Linked DNA regions of Homo sapiens. The protein of the gene in region 1 interacts with the protein of each later gene in a pairwise test. Each region holds a gene or a part of one and is shown in the gene's direction. Other genes may lie near its edges. The genes, in order: ZMYND19, GRB10, KCTD13, PTGES3L-AARSD1, GMEB2, FNDC3B and CPSF6.

Region 1 (2,966 bases):
TGGGAGCTTGCCCAGGACCGGCAGCCTCTGGAGGGACGGTGGTTGCTCCCCTTGCTGGGTTTTGCCGAGCCCCCCCGGTGTGCATGGTAGGGACCACTCAGATGGGGAGCTGTCTCGAGGCCATCTGCTTAGGTGGTTTTGCGTTCCAGCTTTGGCTGTCTGTGCTCTGAAGTCCAGGGGCCGGGTCCTCCCTGTGTCCCTGTCCTGTTTGGGCCACAGATCAGGTGCTTGGGTTTCTCTCAGCAGCTTCCGCCTGAGGTACCCTCATCCAAAGGACCAGGGGCCCGATCAGATCACATGGCTGACATTTCTTCCTGGAAGGACTTTGGTACCTGACCAGAAATGTCTGTGAGGGTGGGAGGCAGCGATGCAGGGTTAGATGCAGGGTTTGCTGTCTGTTTCTAGGGAGCGGCACCGGGGGGGCGTGGCCCCGGGCTTCCAGGTGGTGCACCTCAACGCTGTGACCGTGGACAATCGCCTGGACAACCTGCAACTGGTGCCGTGGGGCTGGCGGCCCAAGGCTGAAGAGACCTCCAGCAAGCAGAGGTGGGTCTTCTCAGGGCCTGGCGATGCCAGCAGAGGCGCCTTTTGAGGAGGGCCACCGCCAAAGCTCTTGTTTCCAAGAGGGTCTCCTGTTCCTCCTCTGAGCCCTGATGCTTCTGTGTATTTTGGGAATTTCATTGTTTTTCCCCAAAGCGTGGAATCCTCCTTTTCTTCATGGGAGCGGGAAGGATCTTGATGGTGTGTGTTTTTGCATTGCTCCTCTTATAATTGGCTCTGGGAACCTCCCTTTAGCTGGCATGACAGTGGGGAGAAGGGCTGCCTGCTCCAGGGCAGGGCCAGCGTCGGGACTCGGTGTGAGCAGGGCTTCTGCCCCACACCCCTGGGAGGCATCAGCCTTCTCTCCTCACCTCAGGATTCCTTCCTTCTCTGCTCACCTCAGGATTCCTTCCTTCTCTCACCTCAGGATTCCTTCCTTCTCTCACCTCAGGATTCCTTCCTTCTCTCACCTCGGGATTCCTTCCTTCTCTCACCTCGGGATTCCTTCCTTCTCTCCTCACCTCGGGATTCCTTCCTTCTCTGCTCACGTCAGGATTCCTTCCTTCTCTCCTCACCTCAGGATTCCTTCCTTCTCTGCTCACCTCAGGATTCCTTCCTTCTCTGCTCACCTCAGGATTCCTTCCTTCTCTGCTCACCTCAGGATTCCTTCCTTCTCTGCTCACCTCAGGATTCCTTCCTTCTCTCCTCACCTCAGGATTCTTTTCTGTGCACACAGATGGGTCTTTTTGTTGTGTTCTTTTGCTAAACAGTTTTCCTTAAGCAAAGGTTTAAAGCGGAGAATGGTTCAGGGCTCAGCCCTCGGCCCCCGACCTGCCTGTGATCCTGAAAGCAGTGCTTTGCATGGGCTTCCCACCTGGGAGGGCGGTTCCTGCTGGCCCTAGAACCAGCCAGTCTGTGAACTTCATGGAGCCCTTGGGAAGAGCCAAGGGACCAGCAGGATAGGGGTTGGGAGCCCAGTTGAGCCAGGGAGTCCCCAGCCACACACGCTTCACTGACATGTTCCCCTGGCGCCCTGGGGCTTTTGGGCACGTCCTCAAGCCTCTGGGCAGCCTTTCCTGGTGCAGGCAGTGCGAACTGCCCTAGCAGATGGTTGTCAGCAACGCTGGTAAGGTTTAGTGTTTCGGGCTTGGTGATGGTTGGTGGCTGTGGGTAGAATCTTTGCAGTTGTCACCTCAGAGTCATGCCAGAGCCCTGGGCAGCCGAGGTGGAAACAGTGGGAGCACCTGACACACTGGTTGGTGATGTGGGGACAGTCCCCAGGCCTCCAAAATGCCACTCCCAAACTGCTGTTCCTGCCACCCTGGAGGGAGTCCTACAAATCCCCCCCCATCCCTTCCTCACTGGGCCTCTCAGGACGAAGGCAGAGCCTGAAGTGTCTTTCGTTCTTGTTGGGCTGGTGTTTTTTTTTCCCTGCTCTGTTTATTTCATTAAATTAATTAATTTTACGGATGGGTCTCACTATGTTGCCCAGGCTGTTCTTGAACTCCTGGCTTCAGGGAATCCTCTTGCCTCAGCATTTTTTTTTTTTTTTTTTTTTGAGACGGAGTCTGGCTCTGTTGCCTAGGCTGGAGTAGCGCGACCTTGGCTCGCTGTAGCTTCTGCCTGCCCAGTTCAAGCAATTCTGCCCCAGTCTTCCTAGTAGCTGGGGTTACAGGTGCCCACCACCACGCCTGGCTAATTTTTGTATTTTTAGTAGAGGTGGGATTTTGCCATGTTGGCCAGGCTGGTCTTGAACTCCTGACCTCAGGTGATCCGCCTGCCTCAGCCTCCCAAAGTGCTGGGATTACAGGCGTGAGCCACCACGCCTGGCCCCGCTTCAGCCTCTTGAGTAGCTGGGATTACGGGTGTGCACCACCACGCCCGGTCCTTGCTCTAATATTAGAGTTTTGACCTTCCTCATACTGCTTGTGAGTGAAGCCAGGCCTCTTACGATTGTTGAATGGGGTTTTTATTCTTTCGGGGATTATGTTAGTTGGAACTTTGGGTTGCAAGAAACAGAAACAAAGGTCAATTTGGCTGAAACAAAAATAGGGTACATTTTGGTATCCTGACTGAAATGTGGAGAGCCAGGGATGCTGCTGCCTCCAGCTCTGCGCCCCCACTCCCGGCTCCTCTCTGGGAGGCGGCATGGGCACTACCTAGCACTTGCGGACTGAAGCAGGCACCCTGTTCTAGTGGTGTCTGGGGAAGCCCTGGGATGAACTGTAGTTAGCTTGCTTAGAATCACTTTTCTACATGAAAAGGGAAGGGGAAGGGGAAGGCGTGCTTGGCAGGCAGAGCAGCATCTGTAGCATCTCCTCCTGCGTTGTCCCACATTGATACATGCTCAGTGTTGATGCTGGGATGGGCCCTTCCCAACTCCGCAAGTTCGCCCGCTGCTCACCACTCCACCTGGCAATGCCTTC
Region 2 (3,500 bases), on another chromosome or scaffold:
GTGACTGGCAGCCATGGACCATACAGGATGAGGAGGGTGTCTTGCTTAGCTTTTGTGAGCCAGGGGAAGGCAGTGTGCCACGCACTGTCTTTTCTGTGGCTGCTTGCTTCCTGCTGTGTGCTGACATCCCCACCTTACTCGTGAGGAAAATGAGGCTCATGGCTGTCAGTGGCTTTTCCTGCACCGCACTGGGGTGAGGAACAGAATCTGGGGTTGAGCCCAGCCTTCCCAGCTTCCAGCCAACCTTATATGCAAATACAGGAATTACTGTCCTAGGGAAAGTGCTGCATAGACAATCCTTTTTGTTCTTCTACTGCATTATATTATTCACACAGTTATAATTCTTTTAGCTCAAAATATAAAATGAAAAGTGATTGACATTTTAGGCTGGATGAGTAAATTAAAAAAAAAAAAGAAAGAAAGGGGGCTTTCGTGGTAGGCAGAGTGTGTAATGCCCAAATCCTACAAGTAACAAAAGAACAGCAACTTGGGACTTAGGGCATTAGGTGTGCAGCCTCTGTGTGTGAAAACTGGCTGTGGGATGTGCTGTTAGCTCTAGCAATGGTTTTAGAGTTACGAAGTGGTTCCAAGCTCATTAATTAGCCAAGCCTTAAGGCTGACCTATTCCCTGTGAACAACACGACCTCCTTTCAGCAGTGTTTTGCACTGTACTACAGTCATCCAACTGAAAACTCACTGAGTTAAAATAGGTGTTAGGAATATGATTCTCTCTGGGAGATACTGTGGCATTCCCCTGCTTTAATAAAAATAACTGCCCCATATTCAGGGACCTAGGAACGGAATTTACCTGCGTGAGCTTATTAATCCCTCATAGCCACCCAACAGTTGCTTCATCATGGAGCAGAGTAAACCCCTGGGGCCTCAGGAGTTGGCTGAGGTCGTATAGTGAGGACCCAGGTTTGTGCAGTCTTCTCGGGGCATGCTGTGTGCAGTGGGTACTTACAAGTTAACTGGTAAATGTAATTCTCATGAGCTGGGTGAACTGGGGGCAACTTCGAGCCCTTCCCCTTGACCACCTTAGGGAGCAGGGGAGCTAGCTGTCCTCAGCAGCCTCCGCAGCCCACCCAAAGTCTGTCCCTCGCTCAGGGACATGGCAGCCCCCAGCACACATCCTCTGCTCCCGTCTTTCCCGCCCCTGGTGTTTTCTAGCCTACCTTGCCCTGTGTGTCCCTCTGGAATCAAATCATGGGCAGATGTAGCTGCTGCTGGCCGTGGGCCCCGTTCTGTTCCCTGAGGTGGCAGCCTCTAACCTGGCAAGTGTTCTTGTGTCTCTCCAGTGCGAGGACGACGGGCAGACGTTCTTCAGCCTAGATGACGGGAACACCAAATTCTCTGACCTGATCCAGCTGGTTGACTTTTACCAGCTGAACAAAGGAGTCCTGCCTTGCAAACTCAAGCACCACTGCATCCGAGTGGCCTTATGACCGCAGATGTCCTCTCGGCTGAAGACTGGAGGAAGTGAACACTGGAGTGAAGAAGCGGTCTGTGCGTTGGTGAAGAACACACATCGATTCTGCACCTGGGGACCCAGAGCGAGATGGGTTTGTTCGGTGCCAGCCGACCAAGATTGACTAGTTTGTTGGACTTAAACGACGATTTGCTGCTGTGAACCCAGCAGGGTCGCCTCCCTCTGCATCGGCCAAATTGGGGAGGGCATGGAAGATCCAGCGGAAAGTTGAAAATAAACTGGAATGATCATCTTGGCTTGGGCCGCTTAGGAACAAGAACCGGAGAGAAGTGATTGGAAATGAACTCTTGCCCTGGAATAATCTTGACAATTAAAACTGATATGTTTACTTTTTTTGTATTGATCACTTTTTTGCACTCCTTCTTTGTTTTCAATATTGTATTCAGCCTATTGTAGGAGGGGGATGTGGCGTTTCAACTCATATAATACAGAAAGAGTTTTGAATGGGCAGATTTCAAACTGAATATGGGTCCCCAAATGTTCCCAGAGGGTCCTCCACACCCTCTGCCGACTACCACGGTGTGGATTCAGCTCCCAAATGACAAACCCAGCCCTTCCCAGTATACTTGAAAAGCTTTCTTGTTAAAATAAAAGGTGTCACTGTGGTAGGCATTTGGCATATTTTGTGGACTCAGTCAAGCAACCACAGTCTGTTAATCATTTCTCTATGCTCAGATGTCAGATCCTCTTGTTATTAGTGTGTCTTGTTCTGCACAGTGCAGGAGACTTTATTCCTTTGGAAAATTCACTGTTCCACAAACAGCAGGCTGAATGGCCTCGCCTCTAGATTGACGTGGGCCAGCCTCCTTGAGACACACCTGGCACCCGTCATCGGCCAGCGGTGGATGCTGCATAATCCACCTGGGTACTTCAGCCTTGCGTTTCCACAGCCTTCAGCCTGTTCTAGAACGATCACTGCCTTACCCCTGCTGCTGCAGTGGTGTGAGTCGTTTCACGGCTGATGTCCCTCGGGGGATTAAAGGATCTAAAGAGAAAATGGCACCTGGTTGTCTTCGTGCTGTGTCTCATGGGTTTCCATAGTGATAAAGACAAGGAAACGCTGCAGGGGCCACAGGCACAGGCTGATATTTAAAGATCTTTGCTTGCAGCCCTCCGTCCTGCTGAAAACCCCCATAAGCCAGTGAACACAGAGCAGCTAGAGGCTCCTCCTCTGCTGGCTTAGGGTCAGAAGTACCTCACAGTGGTTGTGGACATGGAAGAGTTTTGTCAACACAACACTTTGTCCCCGCTCCGGGAGATGAGTCAGATGGTGGCTTGAGTTGTCACTTGGTCCCCTCCGCCCCTCGGGTGGCCCCCTTTGCCACGTCCCCTTAGCTTAGTGATCAGGTGTGAGAGTGGCCATTTCCTTACCTTTGATCCCTGTAAAGCAGAAAGGACTCCTTTGACAGGCGACAAACTACTGTGGTGAGCAGAATGATTTCCTTTTTCAAGACAACACCTGCCTGGCTTCTATTAATGTGTGCTGGCCATGATATTGCCCCAAATCCGCCCCACTGAAGTGTTCCCTAAGGAACAGCATTTCTCTGCTCCTCAGTCAACCCCCGTAGCCTAGAGCAGTGTCACAAGCTTCAGTAAGGCCAGTCAGCTGGAAGTCAGTCTACCGTATAGTAACACTGTATGTCAGTCTACAGACCACACTCTAGTTGTTTTCCATGAAAGGTATACAAATGAAGAATTTTCTAGCAAAACATGTTTTTAACCATCAGTGCTCAATTGCATTTTCTTCCTTTCGCAGCCAGTCAGTCTTTCAAACTATTGACAGTAAGATAATTCTCACGTTCACACCTGGTGGCAGGCTTCACTGTAGGGACGGACATTGCAGTTACACCACGATTCCTTCCTCTTCACTGGCTCGAGGTAAACCCTTTTCAAGGAAAAACAACTCTAGGATTTCTTTTTTCTGTGTACGTAGACCAGTCCCATCAGTGTATAATCTCTCTCTCACACGCCTCTCTCCAATAGACAGCTTGTATTTGCAGTATTTCATATT
Region 3 (3,500 bases), on another chromosome or scaffold:
GGCTCACGCCTGTAATCCCAGCACTTTGGGAGGCTGAGGCGGGCTGATCACCTGAGTTCGGGAGTTCATGACCAGCCTGACCAACATGGAGAAACCTCGTCTCTACTAAAAATACAAAATTAGCTGGGTGTGGTGGCACATGCCTGTAATCCCAGCTACTCAGGAGGCTGAGGCAGGAGAATTGCTTTAACCCGGGAGGTGGAGGTTGCAGTGAGCCGAGATGGCGCCATTGCACTCCAGCCTGGGCAACAAGCGAAACTCTGTCTCAAAAAAAGAAAAAGAAAACTGATAACACAAAAGGCAGGATGTAGAGGAGGCTGTTTTAGCCAGGGGGGCTGGGGAGGGCTGGCCCTGAGGAGGCACTGTGTGACCTGCGATCTGAATGGCATGACGGACACGCCACGCTGACAGCTGAGCAAAGAAGCATCCCGGGCAGGGGCACAGCCAGTGGCCGGGGCAGGCACAAGCTGGATGTGTGAAGCAGCAAGGTGTCCGTGGGACCAAGGCCCAGCAAGCAAAGGGAGAGTGGCAGAGAGGCTGGCGGAGCTTGGAGCCTGCAGAGCCCTGCGGACCACTGAGGAGTCTGGAGTTGTTCCCAACCAGCTTTTGAAGGCTTTTAAGTGGGGGAGTACGTGGCCTTTGGTTGTGCTGTTAACCACCTTCCGCTTCTTCCCCAGCAAAAAAGGGAGACGCTGTCCCCGCTGTGCCTCATCCCCATGGTGACATCTCCCCGGGAGGAGCAGCAGCTCCTGGCCAGCACCTCCAAGGTGAGGCCCCCAAGCCCTGCAGGGTGGAGGCTCACTGGGGGGGCCTCTCCCTGCAGCCTCACCCCTCTCGTCCATCCTCTCTCCCCCGCCAGCCCGTGGTGAAGCTCCTGCACAACCGCAGTAACAACAAGTACTCCTACACCAGGTGACCGCCGGGGTGCGGGGCACTGGGCGGGACCCTGGGATGCAGCACAGCCCTGCTTCTGCCCAAGGCGAGGGCCACGGCCACACGGGGGGCCTACAAGAACATCTGTGCCTGCTCGCAGATTCGGCTTCGCCTCTTACCCCTGACGCTCTAGGCAGGTCCTTTCTGCTTCTCAGCTTCAGCTCAGTCATCAGTAAATGGGTTTGGGTGAGGACAAAGTGATAGTGGCGAGCCTATCCCAAGTGCTCTCATTCTAGGAACTGGCAGAGTCCTCCCCCTTGAGGTCAGTACTGTTGTGAGCTCCATTTTACAGATGAGGAGGTCGGGACACCAAGAGGTGAAGTAACTTGCCTAGTGTCACCCAGTTAAAAAATGGGGACACCAGGACCCCCGGGGAGGTGGCCTGGCTCCCGGTCCCTCACTGGAGCTGCTGTGCTGTGCTGTGCTGGGATTTGCTCAGCGCATGTGGCTTCCCTTCTGAGACCCGTTTAGCCTGGCCCCAGGGGTGGAGGAGGCTCTCTGTTGAGCACCAAAGCCCTGGGCAGGAGCAGAGGACTGGGAATGCATCCAGGCCCGTCTTCTGGGGGTACAGAGGGAGGGGTGCCAACTGCGCTGAGGCCTCCTGGTCCCCTGGTCCCCAGCACTTCAGATGACAACCTACTTAAGAACATCGAGCTGTTCGACAAGCTGGCCCTGCGCTTCCACGGGCGGCTACTCTTCCTCAAGGATGTCCTGGGGGACGAGATCTGCTGCTGGTCTTTCTACGGGCAGGGCCGCAAAATCGCCGAGGTGTGCTGCACCTCCATTGTCTATGCTACGGAGAAGAAGCAGACCAAGGTCAGAGGGGCTCCAGAGCCTATGTTGGGGGCTGGGGGTGGCCAGGACCAGGACCCTGGACAAAAGCAGGTTGGCAGGGGAAGGAGCCCACCACCAGGAGGCAGGAGCCAGATCCTGGGGTCTGGGGTGCACAACAGTGGGCAAGCCACCCTATCCCTGTGGGTCTCTGTTTCTCTGTGAAATGGGGGTCACGGGTTAGAGCAGGGTGCTTAGCCTAGGCCTGTTGGATGGGTTTCAAGGCTGTTTGCAACTCCTGAAATGGGGGTGTATGCATTTTTCTGTATAGGGGGTCCATAGTTGCCATTAGAAACTCAGAAGGGGTGAGGCATAGTGGCTTACGCCTGTAACCCCAGGACTCTGGGAGGCCAAGGCAGGAGGATCACTTGAGCCCAGGAGTTCGAGACCAGCCTGGGCAACATCGTGGGACCTGATCTCTGTAAGAAGTCAAAAAATTTAGCCAGGTGTGGTGGCTTGGTGACATGATGGCATGCACCTGTAATCCCAGCTACTCAGGAAGCTAAGGCAGGAGGATTGCTTGAGCCCAGTAATTTATTTATTTATTATTATTATTATTATTATTTGAGATGGAGTCTCGTTGTGTCACCAGGCTGTAGTGCAGTGGCACAATCTCCGCTCACCGCAACCTCTACCTCCCAGGTTCAAGCGATTCTTCTGCCTCAGCCTCCCCAGTAGCTAGGACTACAGGCACGTGCCACCATGCCCAGCTAATTTTTGTATTTTTAGTAGAAACGGGGTTTCACCATGTTGGCCAGGATGGTCTCAATCTCTTGACCTCGTGATCCACCCACCTCAGCCTCCCAAAGTGCTGGGATTACAAGCGTGAGCCACTGCCCCCAGCCTATTTTTTTTTTTTTTTTTTTAGACAGAGTCTCACTCTGTTGCCCAAGCTGCAGTGCAATGGTGTGATCTCAGCTCACTTAACCTCTGCCTCCCAGATTCAAGTGATTCTCCTGCCTCAGCCTCCCAAGTAGCTGGCACTACAGGCACCCGCCTCCATGCCCGGCTAATTTTTGTATTTTTTAGTAGAGACTAAATGTAGTAGAGAAGTCTCTTTAGTAGAGACTTCGCCATGTTGGTCAGGCTGGTATTGAACCCCTGACCTCAAGTGATCTGCCCTCCTCGGCCTCCCAAAGTGCTTGGATTATAGGTGTGAGCCACCGGGCCCGCCCTAGCCCAGGAATTTGAGGCAGCAGGGAGCTATGATCATGCCACTGCACTCCATCCTAGGAGACAGAGTGAGCCCTAACTCTAATTAAAAAAAAAAAAAAGGGAAACTCAGAAAGGCCCATTGCCAAAAATAGATTCTTAAAACCTCAGAATCAGATGTCTCTTAGAACATCCTCTGAGTTTGTAGATCCTGAGTCATTAATGTGGCAATCATCAAGATATTCCCCAAGCCCCTGCTCTGTGCTAAGTACTGTACCGGGCTGGAAATCAAGGGGAATGAAGTGCTGAGCAAAATACAAGCCCTTCCTCATCTGGTCCCTTCCGAGCTTACTATGAGCCACATGCCTCAGGTACACCACAGTCATCACAAGTCTCTAAGCACTCAGTGCTATTTCTTACCTCTTACCTCTGCACACACTGTTGCCTCTTGGAATTCTTTCCTTCTATCTGCCTAATGAACTTGTACTTAATCTTAAGACTCAAGCTAAGCATCACTTTCTTTGGGTCACCTTCACTCATGAACTTTCAATCCAGCAACCCCAAAGTTGGTCACACTCCCTTCA
Region 4 (3,500 bases), on another chromosome or scaffold:
GGTACAACATGAGCGCAAGTGAGGTACATTGTGAAGATGGAAGAGGAGGATAATAACACCAAAGGTGGGCATTATGAGAAAGGCTTTTCTTTCTTTTCTTTTCTTTCTTTCTTTCTTTTTTTTTTTGAGACAGAATCTCTCGCTGTCATCAGGCTGAAGTGCAGTGGCATGATCTCAGCTCTGCAACCTCCGCCTCCTGGGTTCAAGTGATTCTCCTGTCTCAGCCTCCCAAGTAGCCTGACCAACATGATGAAACCTTGTCTCTACTAAAAATATAAAAATTAACCAGGCATACTGGCAGGCCCCTGTAGTCCCAGCTACTCGGGAGGCTGAGGCATGAGAATCACTTGAACCGGGAGGCTGAAGTTGCAGTGAGCCAAGATTGTGCCACTGCACTTCAGCGTGGGGGACAGAACAAGACTCCGTCTCAAAAGAAAAAAAAAAGGTGTATTAAGGTGTGTGGGCAGCGAACCATGCAGGTTATTTTCTTTCTTTTTTATTTTTAAGAGACAGGATCTTGCTATGTCACCCAGGCTGGAGTGCAGTGGCCTGATCTAGCTCACTGCAGCCTCGAACTCCCAGGCTCAAGCAATCCTCCTGTTTTAGCCTCTCCAGTAGTGGGGACTACAGGCGCACAACCAACATGCTTGGCTGCTTTTTTGTAGAGATGAGGTCTCACTTTATTGCCCAGGCTGATCTTGAGCTCCTGGCCTCAAACAGTCCTCCCACCTTGGCCTCCCAAAGGCTGGGCCTACAGGTGTGAGCCACTGCCCTGGCCTCCACTCAGGTTCTTAAGCAAATAAGTGACATGAGAGAACATGTTCAGTAGACTTGGTATTGAGAGAGTTCCAATTTCATATCAGTCATTATTATGGTGATTTTCCCAGTATGAAGATTTCCCTGATCTGCTGAAGGAAAACCTGTGACCTCAAGTATCCATAGAAGGTCTCATTTTAGACAGCATTTCTTTCAGGAAGTCTTTTTTTGATTCCCCAAGACTGTTAGGTCTCTTTCCTTTGAGGTTCTCTAGCGTCATATACTTTTTCATATTATGGCATGTTATAGGTCATATTGCAATTGTCTGTTTTCCAGCCTCTGTTCTCTAGACTCTTAAGTTCCATGAGGTACCATATCTTGTTTACATTGTATTCTTGGGCTGGCACAGTCTTTTGTAAGCAGTTGGCACTTGAAATGTTTTAAAATGAATGAACTTTTTTTTTTTTTTTTTTTGAGATGGTGTCTTGCTCTGTTGCCAGGCTGGAGCGCAGCGGCGTGATCTCGGCTTACTGCAATCTCCGTCTGCCAGGTTCAAGCAATTCCCCTGCCTCAGTCTCCCGAGTAGCTAGGACTACAGGTGTGCACCACCATGCCCAGTTAATTTTTTGTATTTTAGTAGAGACGGGGTTTCACCATGTTGGCCAGGATGGTCTTGATCTCCTGACCTTGTGATCCGCCCACCTCGGCCTTCCAAAGTACTGGGATTACAGGTGTGAGCCACTGTACCTGGCCCTTTTTTTTTTTTAAATGAGACAGTGTCTCACTCTGTCACCCAGGCTGGAGTGTAGTGGAGCAATCATAGCACACTGCAGTCTCAACCTTTTGGGCTCAAGTGATTCTCCCACCTCAGCCTCCCAAGTAGCAGGGAGTATCATGGCCAGCTAATTTTTTATTTTTCATAGAGGTGGGGTCTCACTGTGTTGTCCAGTCTGATCTCAAGCGATCCTCCTGCCTTGGTCTCCCAAAGTGGTGGGATTACAGGAATAAGCTACCATGCCCAGCCTAAATGAACATTTTTGAATCTAATTCTAATACCACTGCAAGAGGATGGAGTGGAGGGAGGGAGGAAAAATCAGATCATTTTAGAGACTACAAAAGAATCTAGACTAAGGCAAGGAGAGTTGAGGATTAAGATTCTTCGGGTTTTACTAAAATTTTTGTTGCTGTAGTTACAATCTCTTTAATTCTGTTATTCTGAAGATCACAACACATAGGTGTTTAGAATGAAAAGGACTGAGAATCCTCTCATGGAACAAAGTGGACTCATTTCACTTGGCATTGCTTTCTCCCTCTCCCTTAGGGAGCCCAGATTCTGGGTCTCTCACCCTAGAGGGTCTTTGTACCTAGAAGTTAGGGTGAGCCCTGCCTTGCCATTGATTACGTTTACTTATTTCCACCAGCCTGATGACCGTGGTACAATCAATGACATCTCTGTGCTGAGAGTGACTCGCCGTGGGGAACAGGCTGATCATTTCACCCAGACACCCCTGGATCCAGGAAGCCAGGTTCTGGTCCGGGTAGATTGGGAGCGGAGGTTTGACCACATGCAGCAGCATTCAGGTAAAGGCTGGGATGGGGGACATAACACCGGAGCAGTTGCCATGTATGGGGATGCTGTGATGACTGAGACGTAGTTTGGGTTCTCTAGGAGTTAACCTTTTGGAAAAGACAGACTATTCAGAATCAGCTGTAATTCAGGAAGGATATCCTAAATGTTATAACAGCAACATGAACAACTGAAGTAAAAAAAAGTATTAGAATAACTGCTGGATTTAGGTATTATCAACTTCCCACTCGATATCTCCATCTGGATGTCTCACAGCCTTTTCAAACTCAAAATGTCCAAAATGAAACAAAAAGCCTTCCCCTCCCTCCTGGTCTTTCATTAGCATCCTGTGTGTTCATCGCAGGGCATCAGCATGCACCTAGTCACTCAAGTTCTGGAAGTCATTCCAGATACCTCTTCAGGCATAGACAGCCAGCCAATCACTGAGTCCTGTTGGTTTCTTTTCTTTTTTTTTTTTTTTTTTGACACAGAGTTTCGCTCTGTCACCCAGGCTGGAGTGCAATGGTGCGATCTCGGCTCACTGCAACCTCTGCCTCTCGGGTTCAAGCGATTCTCCTGCCTCAGCCTCCCGAGTAGCTGGGATTATAGGCCCCCACCACCATGCCCAGCTAATTTTGTATTTTTAATAGAGACGGTGTTTCACCATATTGGTCAGGCTGGTCTTGAACTCCTGACCTCAGATGATCCGCCTGCCTTGACCCCGCAAAGTACAGGCATGAGCCACACCCCCCCAGCATGTTGGTTTGTTTTCTAAATGTCTGTCCACTTCTTTCCACAGTCACTGTCATCCTAGTCCCAGCTCCTAGCTGTCTTCCCCCTGGACCTCTCTAACAGTTTCCTAATTGATTGCCCCACATTCAGTCTGGCTCCTCTGTAGCCCATTCTCCACATAGCACCAGAACAGTCTTTTTTTTTTTGAGTTGGAGTCTCGCTCTGTCGCCCAGGCTGGAGTGCAATGGCATGATCTCGGCTCACTGCAACCTCACCTCCCGGGCTCAAGTGATCCTCTTGCCTTGGCCTCCCGAGTAGCTGGGATAACAGGTGCGTGCCACCATGCCTGGCTAATTTTTGTATTTTTAGTAGAGACGGTGTTTCACCATGTTGGCCAGGCTGGTCTCGAACTCCAGACCTCGTGATCCGCCCGCCTCGGCTTCTC
Region 5 (3,500 bases), on another chromosome or scaffold:
GTCTTGCTCTGTCGCCCAGGCTGAAGTGTAGTGGTGCAGTCTTGGCACACTGCAGCCTCTGCCTCCCGGGTTCAAGCAGTTCTCTCACTTCAGCCTCCTGAGTAGCTGGGATTACATGGGCACACCACCACGCCCAGCTAATTTTTGTGTTTTCAGTAGAGACAAGGTTTTACCATGTTGGCCAGGCTGGTCTAACTCCTGACCTCAGGTGATCTGCTCGCCTCGGCCTCCCAAAGTGCTAGGATTATGGGCGTGAGCCACCACACCTGGCCTGAGTAAAATTTTAAAGTGGCTTTTTTTTTTTAAGAGAGAGTCTCACTCTGTCACCCAGGCTTGAGTGCAGTGGCATGATCTTGGCTCACTGCAACCTCTGCTGCCCAGGTTCAAGCGATTCTCCTGCCTCAGCCTCCCAAGTAGCTGAGATTACAGGCACCTGCCACCGCGCCCGGCTAATTTTTGTATTTTTAGTAGAGACGGGGTTTCACCGTATTGATCAGGCTGGTCTTTGAACTTCTGACCTTATGATCCACCCGCCGCGGCCTCCCAAAGTGCTGGGATTACAAGTGTGAGCCACCGCGCCCGGCCTAAAGTGGCTTTTTATTCATGTTTGTTTAAAGTTCTTTATTTTGAAGCCTAAGTCTACAACAACAAAGTTATGCTAGTGAAAACATTATATTTGAGAAATACGAAGTAATTCCGCCAGTGTAAACGAATTCATCATTGTAACTTTCCTGGCTAAAAAGCATCTGAAGACAGTCTTCAGAGACCCTGATGCCCTAATGGGAAATTGCCCACCAGCAGCTGGAGGGGTTCACCTGTGAGCCCCCTTTCCCCTTAGGCGCTCTGTCCTAGATGGCCACCATTTAAATTGAGTGACAGTAAACGGCTCATCATGTTCCAGGATGTTCTTAATTTGTAAAAATTTTTTTTCCTCATTTAAACAATACATTTTCCTTCCATCACTCATTTTCGATACCCTCCTGAAACAGGAAACGGGGAATATTTTCTTGTCCCTCGCACTTAGTCCTTAGTGCTTGTGTTTAGATGTGTTCCGTGAATACTTTGAGTAGTGTTCCTGTGGAGCCCTCACTGGTGTTCTCTGGGCTCTGGGCGCTGCCCCTTCTTACCCTAAACCTACCACAGCCCTCCCCGCCACTCACCGTCCGCCACACTCACTGCTCTCCCAGGCCAGGCTGGCGTCAGTAACGCGTGCGGGGTCTTTGCTGCGGGTGGTACCCAGCTCCCCACGGTTTCTTTTTGCTTCCTTTTCTTTGAGAATGGGTCTTTCCTTCATGGTGTTTAACCACCATCCCCTCTGTTCAGATCACCTACATTTCTTGGTTCCTTGGATCTCTGGTCAAGGGTTACTTCAGAGACTGGCTGCCATTTGCGATTGGTGGCCCAGGAAATCGTAGCTTTCTTTTCTCCCCTTTATCTTGCCTGTGGCCCTTTACCTTGGAGTTGTGTGGAGACCCATGCCCAGGTAGGAAGAAGTAGAGCCCCCTGGTCCAGTGCATACCCAGACAAAAGACAGCCTGTGGAATGGAGGAAAAGAAGCTAGGGTGGCCTGAGGACCTTTTGTTCTCTTGCGGACTTCCTCTCCCTAAGACATTCAGAAAAATGTTCCCATGCTGGAAAATGTCGGTTGAGTAAGATTTAGCAAGAACCTTGAGACCTGAAGGCACATTTTGTGATCGATTGTTCAGTTTGGGTGAGTTAGTTCTGGCATTGAAGGCATAATTGCAGAGGCCTGGCTGGGCTATGAGTGCCTCCCCTTAGTGAGTGCAGGGCCAGACTCTCCGCAGGGGACCACTGCGTGCCAGGTTGGGGTGGACCCACTCCTGTCCTTAGACACACTTGTTTGTTACAGTCCTAGGGGCAGGTGATGTTATTTTTATATTAACAATGATGATTTTAAAAGTTCTGGAAGATTTTATTTTCTTTCTTTTTTCTTTTCTTTCTTTCTTTTTTTTGTGACAAGGTCTTGATCTGTTGCCCAGGCTGGAGCGCAGTGGCACAACCATGGCTCACTGCAGCCTTGACCTCCTGGGCTTAAGTGATCCTCCTGCCTCAGCCTCCAGAGTAGCTGCAACTACAGGCGTGCACACCACCATGCCTGGCTATTTTTTATTATTTATTTAGCAGAGATGGGGTGTTGCTGTGTTGCCCAGGCTGGTCTCAAACCCCTGAGCTCAAGCATTCCTCTTGCCTTGGCCTCCCAAAGTCCTGGGATTACAGGTGTGACACCATGCCTGGCCATGAAAATTTTTCTTTGTTTAAAAAGTTTTTATATTCTGTACTTTCTAGTCTATATCTAATCCTAATGAGTCATTCTATTATAGTAGCATTACAGTGTTTTTATTACGGTAAAATATACATAACATAAAATTTAACCATTTTAAACTTTTTTTTTTTTTTTTTTTTTTTTTTTTTTGAGATGGAGTTTCGCTCTTGTTGCCCAGGCTGGAGTGCAGTGGCACGATCTCGGCTCACTGCAACCTCTGCCTCCTGGGTTCAAGCAGGTCTCCTGCCCCAGCCTCCCAAGTAGCTGGGACTACAGGTGCCTGCCACCATGCCTGGCTAATTTTTAGTATTTTTAGTCAAGACAGGATTTCACTGTGTTGGCCAGGATGGTCTCGAACTCCTGACCTCAGGCGATCCGCCTCCCAAAGTGCTGGGATTACAGGCGTGAGCCACCACGCCCAGCCCATTTTAACTGTTTTTAAATGTGTGGTTCAGCACCATTCAGAACAGCCACAGTGATTGTGCAGCCATCACCGCCGTCCATTTCCAGAGCTTTTCATCATCCCAAACAGAAATTCTGTACTCATTAAAGAACAACTCCCTGTACTCCCTCCCCCAGCCCCTGGTCACTTCTGTTCTACTTTCTTTCTTTTTCGTTTTTTGAGAGAGTTCTCACTCTGTTGCCCAGACTGGAGTGCGGTGGTGTGATCACAGCTCATTGCAGCCTCAATCTCCTAGGCTCAAACGATCCTCCAGCCCCGCCTTCCGAGTAGCTGAGACTATCCCAGCTTTGTGTATTTTCTTTTGGTTGTCGTTTTTAATTTTCACATTTCTGTTTGGTTATAACTCCTGTTTCTATACCAAGATTTTCTTTCCACTTGGTTGACAATGTTTGCTTTCCTCTTGGAGCTGGTCCGATAGCACCTGAAAGTCTCTGGATTCTGCGTTCAAGAGCCAGCTTCTCTTGTGTATTTGTTCCTTTGAGAATCAACCAGACTACCCTTTGCCAGGAAGTTTGATCGTGTTCTGGATGCTTTGACTACTGTGCTATGGACTCTAGGTCTTGTTTTAAGTTTCACAGAGAATGTAGACTTTTTTTTTTCATAGCAAGAAATCGACCTGGTTAGGTTCAGGCTGCAAATTTTGCACCCCGTTCCTGTGTCTGTGTTCTTAGGCCAGTTTATTTTAGAGACTTTCCAGTGCACTGTGGATCTGTCCCATATGCGCCACTGGGGCCCATCTGAGACCTGGGCAGT
Region 6 (3,500 bases), on another chromosome or scaffold:
TGAAGATCAGGGGACAGAAATGTTTTTAAAACCACCAAGTATAAATCACATAAGATCGATAGACAGTCGTGATCAGCCATCTACATACAGATGAGGATGTTTGTCAGTTTGAAAATGGATCGATTGTTGAATTTTTCTTTGTTTCTCCCCAGTTAAGATATGCAAGTTTAGCATTCTGTAAGTGTTGGATCAGAATTTCTGATGCCCTTGGCACTCACTACTCAGTGTCAGTTTAGACATTGGCTCCTAATTTTTTTTCTTTTTCTTTTTTAAGATACAGTGTTTCACTGCTGCTGGAGTGCAGTGGCTCTATCATAGCTTACTATGGCTTCGAACTCCTGGGCTCAAGTGATCCTTGAGTAGGGCTATAGCTAGGACTATAGGTTCACGCCACCATGCCTGGCTAATGTTTTTTTTTTTATTTTTATAGAGACAGGGTTTCACTTTGTGGCTCAGGCTGGTCTCTAACTTCTGGCTTGAAGCAATCCCCCCGCTTCAGCCTCCCAAAATGTTGGGATTATAGGTTATGAGCCACCTTGCCCGGCCCTGTTTTGTTTTTATAATATCATTAAAATACCTCATCAGTTTCAAATAACCATTTTGCAGGGTGGTAGGGGATTTTTCTGAGATGGTGTTGAGTCACAGTGTTATTTGAGGTTCTAGTAAGTATCAAAGTGTGTCTTGTGTTAAATGATTCTATTTGAGCTTAAAATGTAATTTCATTTCAGTTACTTGTTTATTGACTCAGAATGCATTTGTTGAGATCTAGACCAGGTTCTTTGTTAATGGAATGTTCTACTCTGTTCTGATGTTTTTGGAATCTTGTATAGAGAACAGTGTCTACCACCAAACTCCTAAGGCTGGATGGTGGTAAGTTCAACTCTTTGCTACCTTCTGAAATTTGAGAAATAGTAAAATTGGAGCACCTTCAGGCTGTGTTAGACTTTAAGGCTTCTAAATTATATTAGAATGTAAGGATACATCTTTGTTTTGACCCTGGAAAGAGTAGTAAAGATTTTCATAAAGGCCAACTAGTCATAAAAACTTACTTAAATTGACATGATCCTAACTCACAATTATGAAAAGCTTTCTGTTGAAATAATTGTGTAGAAAGTGATCTTTATACATGAACAAAGGTGGGATGTTTTAGAAATAATTGAAGATTCTAAGATCCCAGGAAATATAATGGTTTAATTTATTTTTAAGGGATTTAAGATTCCCCATAGCCTATGAAAGAGGGGTCTCTATTAAAAATAACGCCATTGTTCTAGATGTAGCTAATTAGGGATTTGCAATTATCTAGGCAAGGCTAGGATAAAGTTTGGCTGCCTATTCTGTATGAAAAGGTTTTACTGTAAATATCAAGTTTAAATAGATCTTAAGAGGAATATTTACCTAATTAAAAGAACAAACCACTTTTAAGCACCTTGGGAAAATCAATTTACTTAAAAGCAGTGTAAAAATGCAGAATGCATTCACTGATGCTGGTCTGCTGGTGGTCTTTTCATAGAGATACAGGAGCCCCTGGAAAGTCAGTGCTCTCTGTGGATTGCCATGAAATAAATATTGATTGACTCAATGCTATTATGTGAACTACAAACAGTTTACCAGCAATGGGTAGAACTATATTATTTGCTTGCAAAATACATCACAACAATAAACACAATATCTGCCTCCCCCACCCCACTCCACTCTACCAATAGACTCCAACTATGCCTATTTATTGGTTTTGGAGTTTTTCTATTGACATTTGTTTTGCTACTTGTTAACTTCTTTTGTCATGTGTAAGCATTTGATGGCAGATTGGGGACAGCAGGTGTTAAAGGTTTAAGAGCATCATTATTGCTTTTAGCTTCATTTCTTCTGCCTTTGTGTTTGGGCAAGATTGTGGAGAGTCCTGAGTTTAGTATTTAGATAAGGTAATTACATGTCCTTCTCCTCTACTTTTACTAAAGCAAGATCCTCCTGGGCAGCTTAGTTCCAGGTACTGTATGAACTTGCCAGTAATAAGAGTAAGTTTCTTTTAAAAGATTTCTGGATATTTTACGTTTTATACTCAGTCACTCAGATGCGAGGTTTTCTAGTATGTGTCTACTTAGGGGTCAGATTTGACCAGTTTTTAACAGTACAAGTTGTACATATAGGATACTTAATGTATTTCTAGGATATTATGCTTCATTTTCTCTTAGTATTTTAAAGGTTTTAAAAAACCCATTCTATACCTTCTATATCTTTTATTGTTTAAGTCATTCAATGGGAAAGAAAATAATAAAAGTCTTTAGATGCTGTTTCTGATTTTTCGATCATGGTTTTTTTAATCTCAAGAAAAATAATTCTGATTAAGAAATAGAGGTAAACATTATTCTGAAGTAGTGAATTAGAGAATACTTAAATATATTGAGCTGGAATCCTTGTGTATTGCATGTTGGGAATGTTAAATGATAAAGCTACTGTGGAAAACAGTTCTGTAGTTCATAAATATTTACACATAGAATTACTATATGATTCAGCAATTCCATTCCTATTCCTATACGCAAAAGAAAGCAGGGACTCAGGTACTTAAAAGCCAGTGTTTATAGCAGCATTATTGACAATACCTAAAAGGTAGAAACAACCCATGCCCATCAACAGATGAATGGATAAACAAAATATGGTATTATATATTGGAATATTTTGGTACAGTGGAATATTATTCAGCCATAAAAAAGAAGGCAGTTCTAATACATGCCATAACATGAATGAATCTTGAAAACATTATGCTAAGTGAAATAAGCCGGACACAAGAAGATAAATATTGTATATATCCACTTGCATGAGATGACTAGGATAGGTAAATTCATAGAGACAAAAAGTAGAATAGAGATTACCAGGGCTTGGGGGAAGGGAAGATGGAGAGATAGTGTTTCATGGGTTTAGAATTTCTGTTTGGGATGATAAAAAATTTCTGGAAATGAACAGTGGCGATGGTTGTACAACATTATGAATGTATGTAATGCCACTAAGTTGAATGCAGAAAATGGTAAATTTTTTGTTATGTATATTTTATGACAATTAAAAAATGCAAAAGTAAATATTGAAGATGTATCCTACACAGTCTCCATATGCCTCTTTACTCCCCCTTGGTCTGCTTCAGGCAGGTATATAGTTATTTTTTCTTCATCTGGCTGTTGCAGTGTAAATGGAGATTTCCCTAGGCCATTTTTTGGAGATCAGAGAGTTTCCTTATTTTATTAACTGACTTAAATTTAAGAGGAAAATGTTTAAAAGTAGATCTCTGGAGGGGAAAAAAGGGCATTTTAATATTGAGATGAATCAGGGAGTTTGTTAATATTGGCAGACCATGTAAGCACATGAAGATAATCTATCCTGAATAGCACAGCGAGTCATTTAGAAATCCAGTAGTAGGTGTACACTCGGACCTGTCACATTTTCTAACCTTTAAACATTGTTTTTTGTTTCTTTTTTTTGAGATAGAATTTCGCTCTTATTGTCCAGGGTGG
Region 7 (3,500 bases), on another chromosome or scaffold:
TTAACTGAAGCAGTTCATTCTTTGGGAGTAAATGATATTTTGGAGATAAAATTTTTTGAAAATCGGGCAAATGGCCAGTCAAAGGGGTAAGTTTTTTTTTTCTTTCTTTTTGATTTAGTAGCTAGTGATACAGTTTTTACAAGTTAACTTTCCTTTAAGTTAATGTTAATTACACATGTATACACATGTATACAAACAACACATGATTGTTTACATTGGAAGGAGGTTCTTGGGCAAAGATTGATACTTTTCATTTTACGTACCCTATTACCTAACACACTAAAACCAGTAGAGTGGAAATGTGGACAGATTTATTTTCTATTTTTCCCAAGTTTTCTCTATCTGTGGTTGAAATGGTTGTTGAAATGACAGTTTAAGAACCATTACTCTCCCTGTGATTAAGAGATGGGAGAAGATGGGCAACTGAATAATGTGTTACATGGATATTTTGCTTTATTTCACTACTAAACTATACAAGTGGGATAGCCTCAGCATGAGAACATTATAAATACAGATATCTAAAAGTAAGAAAATAAAATACCACTGTCCTACCATTCATTGATGTTTACTTTTAACATTTTAGTGAAGATTCTTTTGGGCTTTTTCCTAAAAATAAATAAATAAATAAATAATGGAATTATAATTCATGTGTTTTATATGTTTGATATAAGGAATAAAAATAAATACACATCCTCTCTAATGTCTAATTCTTTTGCATCATACCTGGTATGCTACTGTAATTTACCTTTCTTATTTTTGGTTATCGTGGTGGTTTCCACTTTTGCCTATTGTAAATAATGTTGCAGCAGACATCATTTTATATAAGTCTTTTGGTACAGATTTTGGATTTTCTTTTAAGGATAAATTGTTAGATGCACAATGATAAAGAATTTTCTTATTTCTTATATTGCTTACTTATCTTAGAAGATTATACCAATTTATACTAAACTGAGAATATTTTCAAAATATATGCAGAGTCTGAATACTTCTCACTAACTTTACTTATACCACTTGGTCAAAGCCACTATCATCTCTCACTTAAACTTTGGCAGTAGCTTCCTAACTGGAAGTATAGACTGCCCCCTACAGTCTGTACTCCACATAACAGAAGTTCTAAAAAAAAAATGACATTCTGCTCAATCTTCTCATGGTTTCCTGTCTGTCTCATTCTTTACCATTGTCTACAAGGTACTTTCTGGTCTGTTTTCCCACCACCTTTCTAACCCTATCCTACCACTCTTTTTCAGCCACATTAGTCTCTTTGCTGTTGGCCAGACCAATTCCTACCTAGGACCTTTAGCTGTTTTCTCTTCTTGGTTTACTTTTCCCCCTCAAATATCCACATGGCTTACTCTTTGACTTCATTCAGGACTCAAACTGTTTAAGAGTTTTCTTCCATGACCATCTTGTGCAAAGTAGCACCTTCCTATCCTGTTTCCTTTATTTCTGCTCTGATATATTTTACTCGTTTGTTGTCTCCTCTTCCAAGCCTTTAAGCTTAATGAGAACAGAGATTTTGTTTTGTTCTCTATTACTTCTCCAGCTCTAGAATGGTACCTTGCGTATAAGAAGTGGTGCTTAATAAATATTTGTTAAATTAATTTAGTTTTTTCTAAATGTTGTGACCCAAGATAATCCTGGTGCAAACAGCAGAACTTGTTGACTAAAATAAGAAGGATAATTTAAAAGATCATATTGAACATTAGGGGGAAAAGAGCTTAAGCTTCTTAAGCTACTAAGACCCTCCCTCCCTCAAATAATTTAGAATATCCTGTAACTATACGAATTGGTAATCATTCTGATTATTTTAAATTTGTTTTTCTTTTTGAGGTATAATTCATATGCCATAAAATGCAGGCTTTTAAATGTACAATTCAATGATAATTTATTATATTTATGAAGTTTAGCAACCATTACCACTGTCTCATTCCAGAACATTTCATCACTCCAAGAAGGAACCTTGTACCTGGTTAGCAGTCACTCCCATTTCCTCTCTTCCTATCTGCTGGCAACTGCTAACGTGCTCTGGATATGCCTGTTCTGGACATTTCATCTAAATGGAATCATAAAATACGTAGTCCTATGTGACTGGCTTTTTTCCTTAGCATAATGATTTTAAGGTTCATCCATGTTGAAGCATGCATCAGCATTTCTTTTTATGGCTGAGTAATATTCCACTACATGGATATAGCACTTTTTTCTTTTAATCTATCAGTCGATGGACGTCTAGGTTATTTCCACTTTTGGCTATTAAGGAAAATGCCCCTGTGAATATTTGTGTACCCATTTTGTGTGAACATGTATTTTCAGTTCTGTTGGATGTGTACCTAGGAATGGAATTACTGGGTTAATATAGTAACTCTATGTTTAAATGTTTGAGGAATTACCAGATTATTTGCCAGAGGCATTGTGCCATTTTATTAATACGTGCTCATCAGCAATGTGCAATGGTTCCAGTTTCTCCACATATTTATTTATTTATTTATTTATTGAGACAGAGTCTCACTCTGTCACCCAGGCTGGAGTGCAGTGGCGCAATCTTGGCTCATTGCAACTTCTGCCTCCCAGGTTCAAGCGATTCTCCTGTCTCAGCCTCCCAGCGTGGGACTACAGGCACACGCCACCATGCCTGGCTAATTTTTGAATTTTTAGTAGAGACGGGGTTTCACCATGTTGGTCAGGCTGGTCTTGAACTCCTGACCTCATGATCCTCCTGCCTTGGCCTCCCAAAGTGCTGAGATTATAGGCGTGAGCCACTGCACCCGGCCTCTCCACATCTTTAATACTTGTCTTTTTGATTATAGCCACCCTAGTGGGTATGGGGTGGTATCTTGTGGTTTTGATTTGCACTTCCCCAATAGTTAATGATATTGTACATCTTTTTATTGTAGCAAAAAGTGGAAGCAACCCAAATGTCCATGAACTGATGGATACATTTCTTTTAATGTTGTATATTTATAATGGAAAATTATTCACCCATAAAAGTAAGTGGTGATGCATGCTGTAACAGTGGATGAAGCTTGAAAACATGCTAGTTAAAGAAGGCTGGTCACAAGGGACCTCCTATTGTATGATTCCATTTAGATGAAATGTCTAGGATAGGCCAGTCCAGAGACAGAAATTAGGTTTAGTGGTTCCATAGGGTACAGGGATGGGAAGGAATGGGAGCGATGGCTAATGGATATGGAGTTTCTTTTTGGGGTGATGAAAATGTTTTAAAATTGATTATGGTGGTGGTTATAACACTGTGAAATACTAAAAACCACTGAATTATATATTTTGAATGACTGAATTCTATGGTATGTTATACAAGATGAACAAAAATGTGTACTCGTATAGTTAAGAAATATTTTTAGTTTTTAAAATTATTTATTTTTAGAGACAGGATCTCACTGTGTTGCCCAGGCTGGAGTGCAGTAGTGTGATTATAGGTTACTGTAGCCTCAAACTCCTGGGCTCAAGCAATCCTCGTGCCTCAACCTTCTAAGCAGCTGGGATTA

What was found.
Region 2: the proteins of ZMYND19 (region 1) and GRB10 interact in binary tests that used the Homo sapiens proteins (3 or more experiments, as listed by UniProt).
Region 3: the proteins of ZMYND19 (region 1) and KCTD13 interact in binary tests that used the Homo sapiens proteins (3 or more experiments, as listed by UniProt).
Region 4: the proteins of ZMYND19 (region 1) and PTGES3L-AARSD1 interact in binary tests that used the Homo sapiens proteins (3 or more experiments, as listed by UniProt).
Region 5: the proteins of ZMYND19 (region 1) and GMEB2 interact in binary tests that used the Homo sapiens proteins (3 or more experiments, as listed by UniProt).
Region 6: the proteins of ZMYND19 (region 1) and FNDC3B interact in binary tests that used the Homo sapiens proteins (3 or more experiments, as listed by UniProt).
Region 7: the proteins of ZMYND19 (region 1) and CPSF6 interact in binary tests that used the Homo sapiens proteins (3 or more experiments, as listed by UniProt).

The regions. Positions count from the first base shown.
Region 1 is NC_000009.12:137,584,547-137,587,512, reverse strand, and holds part of ZMYND19 (zinc finger MYND domain-containing protein 19), read left to right. Parts: intron 1-405; coding exon 406-546; intron 547-2,966. UniProt on the Homo sapiens protein: May be involved as a regulatory molecule in GPR24/MCH-R1 signaling.
Region 2 is NC_000007.14:50,590,897-50,594,396, reverse strand, and holds part of GRB10 (growth factor receptor-bound protein 10), read left to right. Parts: intron 1-1,298; coding exon 1,299-1,445; 3' UTR 1,446-3,500.
Region 3 is NC_000016.10:29,909,227-29,912,726, reverse strand, and holds part of KCTD13 (BTB/POZ domain-containing adapter for CUL3-mediated RhoA degradation protein 1), read left to right. Parts: intron 1-677; coding exon 678-767; intron 768-859; coding exon 860-912; exon of another isoform or gene 913-1,066; intron 1,067-1,169; exon of another isoform or gene 1,170-1,553; coding exon 1,554-1,749; intron 1,750-3,500. UniProt on the Homo sapiens protein: Substrate-specific adapter of a BCR (BTB-CUL3-RBX1) E3 ubiquitin-protein ligase complex required for synaptic transmission.
Region 4 is NC_000017.11:42,960,029-42,963,528, reverse strand, and holds part of PTGES3L-AARSD1 (PTGES3L-AARSD1 protein), read left to right. Parts: intron 1-2,177; coding exon 2,178-2,337; intron 2,338-3,500. Other genes in the region: alanyl-tRNA editing protein Aarsd1, read left to right, coding at 2,178-2,337. UniProt on the Homo sapiens protein: Functions in trans to edit the amino acid moiety from incorrectly charged tRNA(Ala).
Region 5 is NC_000020.11:63,620,602-63,624,101, reverse strand, and holds part of GMEB2 (glucocorticoid modulatory element-binding protein 2), read left to right. Parts: intron 1-3,500. UniProt on the Homo sapiens protein: Trans-acting factor that binds to glucocorticoid modulatory elements (GME) present in the TAT (tyrosine aminotransferase) promoter and increases sensitivity to low concentrations of glucocorticoids. Also binds to the transferrin receptor promoter.
Region 6 is NC_000003.12:172,046,078-172,049,577, forward strand, and holds part of FNDC3B (fibronectin type III domain-containing protein 3B), read left to right. Parts: intron 1-3,500. UniProt on the Homo sapiens protein: May be a positive regulator of adipogenesis.
Region 7 is NC_000012.12:69,253,069-69,256,568, forward strand, and holds part of CPSF6 (cleavage and polyadenylation specificity factor subunit 6), read left to right. Parts: coding exon 1-86; intron 87-3,500. UniProt on the Homo sapiens protein: Component of the cleavage factor Im (CFIm) complex that functions as an activator of the pre-mRNA 3'-end cleavage and polyadenylation processing required for the maturation of pre-mRNA into functional mRNAs.